Linked DNA regions of Homo sapiens. The gene in region 2 interacts genetically with the main gene of each other region. Each region holds a gene or a part of one and is shown on either strand. Other genes may lie near its edges.

Region 1 (4,005 bases), 120 kb from region 2:
ACTCACTAGATTGTGAGCTGCTCAGGGCAGGTAGCGTTTTTTGTTTTTGTTTTTGTTTTTCTTTTTTGAGACAGGGTCTTGCTCTGTCACCCAGGCCAGAGTGCAATGGTACAGTCTCAGCTCACTGCAGCCTCAACCGCCTCGGCTCAAACCATCATCCCATTTCAGCCTCCTGAGTAGCTGGGACTACAGGCACATGCCATTACACCTGGCTAATTTTTTTGTATTTCTAGTAGAGACAGGGTTTGGCCATGTTGCCCGGGCTGGTCTCGAACTCCTGGACTCAAGCAATCCACCCACCTCAGCCTCCCAAAATGAGGGACCGTGTCTTATTCATTTCCATGTCCCTAGTCCATAGCCCAGTGCTGGACCTATGGTAGTACTAAATAAATATTTGTTGAATGCAATAGTAAATAGCATTTCAGGGAGCAAGAACTAGATTAACAAAGGTGGTAAAAGGTTTGGAGAAAAAAATAATAGTTTAATTTGGCTAGAGTATGAGGGAGAGTAGTAGGAGACAAGATGGAAAGGTCTCTTGGGCAAGGTTTTGAAGGAAGTTGGAAGTCAGAAGTACACAATGTGCATATCGTGGCAGGCAGTGGGGAGCCAATGAAGGCTTTTGAGCAGGAGAGTAATGTGTTGAAAAATAAATATAGGTTAAACCTATCAGAGCCCCTCTGACACATACACTTGCTTTTCATTCAAGCTCAAGTTTGTCTCCCACATACCCATTACTTAACTCACCCTCGGGCTCCCCTAGCAGCCTGCCCTACCTCTTTACCTGCTTCCTGGTGGAGTCAGGGATGTATACATGAGCTGCTTTCCCTCTCAGCCAGAGGACATGGGGGCCCCAGCTCCCCTGCCTTTCCCCTTCTGTGCCTGGAGCTGGGAAGCAGGCCAGGGTTAGCTGAGGCTGGCTGGCAAGCAGCTGGGTGGTGCCAGGGAGAGCCTGCATAGTGCCAGGTGGTGCCTTGGGTTCCAAGCTGAGTCCATGGCCCCGATAACCTTCTGCCTGTGCACACACCTGCCCCTCACTCCACCCCCATCCTAGCTTTGGTATGGGGGAGAGGGCACAGGGCCAGACAAACCTGTGAGACTTTGGCTCCATCTCTGCAAAAGGGCGCTCTGTGAGTCAGCCTGCTCCCCTCCAGGCTTGCTCCTCCCCCACCCAGCTCTCGTTTCCAATGCACGTACAGCCCGTACACACCGTGTGCTGGGACACCCCACAGTCAGCCGCATGGCTCCCCTGTGCCCCAGCCCCTGGCTCCCTCTGTTGATCCCGGCCCCTGCTCCAGGCCTCACTGTGCAACTGCTGCTGTCACTGCTGCTTCTGGTGCCTGTCCATCCCCAGAGGTTGCCCCGGATGCAGGAGGATTCCCCCTTGGGAGGAGGCTCTTCTGGGGAAGATGACCCACTGGGCGAGGAGGATCTGCCCAGTGAAGAGGATTCACCCAGAGAGGAGGATCCACCCGGAGAGGAGGATCTACCTGGAGAGGAGGATCTACCTGGAGAGGAGGATCTACCTGAAGTTAAGCCTAAATCAGAAGAAGAGGGCTCCCTGAAGTTAGAGGATCTACCTACTGTTGAGGCTCCTGGAGATCCTCAAGAACCCCAGAATAATGCCCACAGGGACAAAGAAGGTAAGTGGTCATCAATCTCCAAATCCAGGTTCCAGGAGGTTCATGACTCCCCTCCCATACCCCAGCCTAGGCTCTGTTCACTCAGGGAAGGAGGGGAGACTGTACTCCCCACAGAAGCCCTTCCAGAGGTCCCATACCAATATCCCCATCCCCACTCTCGGAGGTAGAAAGGGACAGATGTGGAGAGAAAATAAAAAGGGTGCAAAAGGAGAGAGGTGAGCTGGATGAGATGGGAGAGAAGGGGGAGGCTGGAGAAGAGAAAGGGATGAGAACTGCAGATGAGAGAAAAAATGTGCAGACAGAGGAAAAAAATAGGTGGAGAAGGAGAGTCAGAGAGTTTGAGGGGAAGAGAAAAGGAAAGCTTGGGAGGTGAAGTGGGTACCAGAGACAAGCAAGAAGAGCTGGTAGAAGTCATCTCATCTTAGGCTACAATGAGGAAATTGAGACCTAGGAAGAAGGGACACAGCAGGTAGAGAAACGTGGCTTCTTGACTCCCAAGCCAGGAATTTGGGGAAAGGGGTTGGAGACCATACAAGGCAGAGGGATGAGTGGGGAGAAGAAAGAAGGGAGAAAGGAAAGATGGTGTACTCACTCATTTGGGACTCAGGACTGAAGTGCCCACTCACTTTTTTTTTTTTTTTTTTTGAGACAAACTTTCACTTTTGTTGCCCAGGCTGGAGTGCAATGGCGCGATCTCGGCTCACTGCAACCTCCACCTCCCGGGTTCAAGTGATTCTCCTGCCTCAGCCTCTAGCCAAGTAGCTGCGATTACAGGCATGCGCCACCACGCCCGGCTAATTTTTGTATTTTTAGTAGAGACGGGGTTTCGCCATGTTGGTCAGGCTGGTCTCGAACTCCTGATCTCAGGTGATCCAACCACCCTGGCCTCCCAAAGTGCTGGGATTATAGGCGTGAGCCACAGCGCCTGGCCTGAAGCAGCCACTCACTTTTACAGACCCTAAGACAATGATTGCAAGCTGGTAGGATTGCTGTTTGGCCCACCCAGCTGCGGTGTTGAGTTTGGGTGCGGTCTCCTGTGCTTTGCACCTGGCCCGCTTAAGGCATTTGTTACCCGTAATGCTCCTGTAAGGCATCTGCGTTTGTGACATCGTTTTGGTCGCCAGGAAGGGATTGGGGCTCTAAGCTTGAGCGGTTCATCCTTTTCATTTATACAGGGGATGACCAGAGTCATTGGCGCTATGGAGGTGAGACACCCACCCGCTGCACAGACCCAATCTGGGAACCCAGCTCTGTGGATCTCCCCTACAGCCGTCCCTGAACACTGGTCCCGGGCGTCCCACCCGCCGCCCACCGTCCCACCCCCTCACCTTTTCTACCCGGGTTCCCTAAGTTCCTGACCTAGGCGTCAGACTTCCTCACTATACTCTCCCACCCCAGGCGACCCGCCCTGGCCCCGGGTGTCCCCAGCCTGCGCGGGCCGCTTCCAGTCCCCGGTGGATATCCGCCCCCAGCTCGCCGCCTTCTGCCCGGCCCTGCGCCCCCTGGAACTCCTGGGCTTCCAGCTCCCGCCGCTCCCAGAACTGCGCCTGCGCAACAATGGCCACAGTGGTGAGGGGGTCTCCCCGCCGAGACTTGGGGATGGGGCGGGGCGCAGGGAAGGGAACCGTCGCGGCAGTGCCTGCCCGGGGGTTGGGCTGGCCCTACCGGGCGGGGCCGGCTCACTTGCCTCTCCCTACGCAGTGCAACTGACCCTGCCTCCTGGGCTAGAGATGGCTCTGGGTCCCGGGCGGGAGTACCGGGCTCTGCAGCTGCATCTGCACTGGGGGGCTGCAGGTCGTCCGGGCTCGGAGCACACTGTGGAAGGCCACCGTTTCCCTGCCGAGGTGAGCGCGGAGCTGGCCGAGAAGGGGCAAAGGAGCGGGGCGGAGCGGGGCCAGAGACGTGGCCCTCTCCTACCCTCGTGTCCTTTTCAGATCCACGTGGTTCACCTCAGCACCGCCTTTGCCAGAGTTGACGAGGCCTTGGGGCGCCCGGGAGGCCTGGCCGTGTTGGCCGCCTTTCTGGAGGTACCAGATCCTGGACACCCCCTACTCCCCGCTTTCCCATCCCATGCTCCTCCCGGACTCTATCGTGGAGCCAGAGACCCCATCCCAGCAAGCTCACTCAGGCCCCTGGCTGACAAACTCATTCACGCACTGTTTGTTCATTTAACACCCACTGTGAACCAGGCACCAGCCCCCAACAAGGATTCTGAAGCTGTAGGTCCTTGCCTCTAAGGAGCCCACAGCCAGTGGGGGAGGCTGACATGACAGACACATAGGAAGGACATAGTAAAGATGGTGGTCACAGAGGAGGTGACACTTAAAGCCTTCACTGGTAGAAAAGAAAAGGAGGTGTTCATTGC
Region 2 (4,240 bases):
GCCAGATAGGACAAAATTCCTTTTCACTGCAGTATTGGGAGCCTGGAACTAGAGTTACCAACCCCTCTGCGTTAAAGAAGGAGCTGTCCTGAGGCTTCCATCTCTACTGGGCTTGAGGCAAGAACATTGTTAGGGACGGCCTGCTCTTGGCCTCTGTGCCCCAGGGATTGCAAATGCATGTTCCTCAAAGGTAAGGGCTGTATCATTCGGCTTTCTTTGTATTCACAGGTACAGCTTGTGCTAGGCAGCCGGTGTTCAATAAATATCGTGCCTAAGGATAAAGTGGCATTGTCCTTAATTTCCCCCACCAAACCACTAGGTGTCGCCTTCATCTCAGGGAAACCATGCCCGTCCTCGCCCTATACACTCCCACCCCACTCCAGGGCTCCAGGAGCGCTCTTAGCTTGTGATTTCTGGAGAAATAGCTTGAAGGGGGGAGAGAAACCGTGGCTCTTAGCGCGGGCAGAGAATGGGCTTATGTGCATGTCCTTTATGACAGTTGGAGAAAAATCCCCAAGGTCCCATAGCAGTCCCTCTCAGCCACCATGAGATCATCCCTCACAAGCTGTTCTTGGGGTCAGATTGGCACTCCAGATATGAGGGCCCTAGGGAGAGCTTCCTAAGGGAAGCTGGGAGCAAGGTGGAACCCCAGGAGAGCGTGGATGGGCTTCCACTGCGGGGAGTGTCCCGCCGGTCCGTTACAGGCTTTCCCCAGGCGCCAGCCTGCGCTGTGCAGGAGACAAAAGAAAATCGAGGCCCTGACTGAGCAGATGGTGCGGAGGAAGCCGGGCGGGCTGCGGTGGGCCTCTGAGGACACGAGGAGGGCAGGGGGCATGGAGACAGCGGGGGGCCGAGAGTTGAGTCCCAAGCAAGAAGGAGCCTCGTGGACTTTCTAAGGACTGGTGGGAAGTGTACAGCAGGGGCCCCTGGCTGCTGGAGGGGCCCGTCCAGGGAGCGGGCATGGTCCGCGGTGGAGTAAGCCGCACTGCCGTCGGGAGGGCGCTATGGTTTGCTAGGTGAGGGGGCTGGTGAGGATACCACACGTCTGGGGATCCTCGACTGCTTCCTGGAGACTGGAACCACTGAGGGACTCAGGGAGTTCAGAGGGGAGACCCAAGAAGAACGGGCTGAGCGAGGGGGAGAGGACAAACCCTGGGGTCGCTGGCGTGTGTGAGATGGAAATGGAAGGAGGGGCGGCAGGGGGACCAGGGGCGTGGGGGAGACCAGGGTAGGCCCTGAGAGTGAGGGAGCGCCCGGGAACCCTGCTGGCCGGCGAGGCCTTGGTGCGGAGCCCCCAAGTGCTCACCGGGGTGGGTTTGGGACCTGGCGGTCCCGAGCGCCCGGGTGGGGGGTGGGGGAAGGCAGCCGGCGCCGGAGGGTGGGGCCGGGAGGGAGGAGGAGAGGCAGCGGGGGAGGGGCGGGGGCGGGCGGCCTGCCCGGGGGAGTCGCACTCGGCCGCCGGCGCAGCGAGCGGAGACGGGCCGGGCCGAGGCGACCTGACCCGGACGAGCGGCGCGCGCGGGGCCCAGGCGGGGGGCGGGAGGAAGCGCCGGGCAGCGCCGGCCGCCAGGGCCCAGGAGAAGCGGAGCAGAGAGGAGCGGGGACACGGGCGGGGCCGCCGTAGCTCCGGATGGGACCAGCGCCCGGGCCCGTTAGTCCAAGCAGGAGCTCCGGGAGAATCCTTCACAGGGAGATTTACCCCTGCCTTCCCCTGCCCTCCGGCCCAGGCCTCGCTTCGCTCCCCGCCTGCCCATGATCCCAGTCCTTCCGCGGCGCGGGCACCCTCCCACCTTACCCCCTTGGTCCTATGTGGCGCAGCGCCCTCCTGCCCTCCCGGCCCTTTCAGCTGTGAGGTTCCCCCAGGCCGTTTCTTTGTACCACCCGCCCCCCACCCCCACCCCATCCCAGTCCCAGATCCCCTTTTCCTTCTCAGCTTTAGATTTATCAGGCTTCTTCACCTCGCACTGTCCCCATCCTGGCCGCAGGCCCCCTCGGTCCCTCCCTCCCCCTGCCACCCCGTTCTCAGTCCTCAGTCCTTGCCCTAGGCTGGTAGCCCACTCCTTGCCCGCCCCCCGCCTTCCTCCCATCTCCCCCTCCTCTCCCCGGCCCCCAGCACCTTCTGCATCCCAGCCTACCTAGCCTACTCCTCCTCTTCCTGGCCCTCTTCCCCAGGCTCCAGGCTGGGGGGTGCTCGCGTCTCCCCTGTAGGCCAGAGCAGCCCCAAGTTCTGGGGGCGGTGGGGCTGCTGCTTTATCCCCATGGCGCTGCCATCACTTCTGCTGTTGGTGGCAGCCCTGGCAGGTGGGGTGCGTCCTCCCGGGGCGCGGAACCTGACGCTGGCGGTGGTGCTGCCAGAACACAACCTGAGCTATGCCTGGGCCTGGCCACGGGTGGGACCCGCTGTGGCACTAGCTGTGGAGGCTCTGGGCCGGGCACTGCCCGTGGACCTGCGGTTTGTCAGCTCCGAACTGGAAGGCGCCTGCTCTGAGTACCTGGCACCGCTGAGCGCTGTGGACCTCAAGCTGTACCATGACCCCGACCTGCTGTTAGGTCCCGGTTGCGTGTACCCTGCTGCCTCTGTGGCCCGCTTTGCCTCCCACTGGCGCCTTCCCCTGCTGACTGCGGGTGCTGTGGCCTCTGGTTTTTCGGCTAAGAATGACCATTATCGTACCCTGGTTCGCACTGGCCCCTCTGCTCCCAAGCTGGGTGAGTTTGTGGTGACACTACACGGGCACTTCAATTGGACTGCCCGTGCTGCCTTGCTGTACCTGGATGCTCGCACAGATGACCGGCCTCACTACTTCACCATCGAGGGCGTCTTTGAGGCCCTGCAGGGCAGCAACCTCAGTGTGCAGCACCAGGTGTATGCCCGAGAGCCAGGGGGCCCCGAGCAGGCCACCCACTTCATCCGGGCCAACGGGCGCAGTGAGTGTGGCCTGGGCTATTTTAGGGTCATGGGAGGAGGGTCGCTGTGTCCCTAAAGCTCAGCACTGGGGAACTGTAGATGGAGATAGGCATTGAGCAGCTGTATGTGGTGGTTGGGATCAAGAAGCACACGTGGACAGAGCACCTGTGAGAGGGCCAAGGCTTCATCATGGGAGCTTGTGAACACCCTAGGCAGATGCAAACAAGGAAGAAGAGAGCATGAGGGGTGAAGCCTTGTATCAAGGTGGAATGTGAAAATGAGGGGATATTAAGTTTCGGGAGCAATGTTTGTGCCCTAGAGTAGTGAATGTGATTGATAGCCACTCTGAAATGTGCCCTGTCTGTGATCAGAGCTACCACCCAGACTGGGCGCCAAGACCCCTTGGTGGTGTAAAAATAATGAGGGCTCCATGAACGGACTCAGGGCTCAGCAGATTTGGGAAAGACAGATAAAGCTCATACTGAGAAATCTGTGCTGTCTGTGCCTTTGAGCCCAGGGAAGGGCAGGGAAGAGTCAGGGAGCAGGCCGGTTGGGTGGGGAGCAGCAAGGGAGGCTCTGGGAAAGGGAGGGGCTTGAGAGTGACAGCTCCCTTCCTCTGGGGTCTGGACAGGCTCTGACTTCTGCCAGATGGTCCATATGGCCCCAGGGTACTTATGGTGGACTCCAAGAGGGGTGGGCTGGGGAGCATCTGCTTTGGGGTTGATAGGTTAGGGCACTCTCTTTCTTGCTGAAGAGGGACATCCCAGTGATTCAGAGAGGGGGCTGTGTGGGGGACCTGGATACCTTCTCAGGGTGCTCCTCTGTCATGTACCTGCTCCCAGTTGTGTATATCTGCGGCCCTCTGGAGATGCTGCATGAGATCCTGCTTCAGGCCCAGAGGGAGAATCTGACCAATGGGGATTATGTCTTCTTTTACCTGGATGTCTTTGGGGAGAGTCTCCGTGCAGGCCCCACACGTGCTACAGGCCGGCCCTGGCAGGACAATCGCACCCGGGAACAGGCCCAGGCCCTCAGAGAGGCCTTTCAGGTATCATTTGAGCCAAATCTGAAGGAGGAGGGGGAAGAGGTGCTTCGCTGGAAATTCTCTCTCACAAGACCCTAAAGAAACCCTAGGAACCAGGCAGGAATTGTGAGCCACAGGAGTAAAATGAACAGAGGCATTCTGAGTCTAGTGTCACCCTTTCTTACTTCTCTACTTTTGTGACTCTTAGTGTGCTTGCTGCCAAGACTGACTTTGGCTGCCTCCAAAATCCTAAAACACTGACTTTCCTAAGTGCCAGTAGTAGGCTATATTGTGGGGGAGAAAAGTTCAGG

The links.
Region 1: changes in NPR2 (region 2) and CA9 together harm fitness less than expected from each alone (positive genetic interaction), as found in Homo sapiens cells (one large-scale study listed by BioGRID).

What each region holds. Positions count from the first base shown.
Region 1 is NC_000009.12:35,672,723-35,676,727, forward strand, and holds the start of CA9 (carbonic anhydrase 9 precursor), read left to right. Parts: upstream 1-1,205; 5' UTR 1,206-1,237; coding exon 1,238-1,640; intron 1,641-2,815; coding exon 2,816-2,845; intron 2,846-3,038; coding exon 3,039-3,209; intron 3,210-3,341; coding exon 3,342-3,484; intron 3,485-3,574; coding exon 3,575-3,667; intron 3,668-4,005. UniProt on the Homo sapiens protein: Catalyzes the interconversion between carbon dioxide and water and the dissociated ions of carbonic acid (i.e. bicarbonate and hydrogen ions).
Region 2 is NC_000009.12:35,790,151-35,794,390, forward strand, and holds the start of NPR2 (atrial natriuretic peptide receptor 2 isoform 1 precursor), read left to right. Parts: upstream 1-1,440; 5' UTR 1,441-2,258; coding exon 2,259-2,925; intron 2,926-3,747; coding exon 3,748-3,953; intron 3,954-4,240. UniProt on the Homo sapiens protein: Receptor for the C-type natriuretic peptide NPPC/CNP hormone. Has guanylate cyclase activity upon binding of its ligand. May play a role in the regulation of skeletal growth.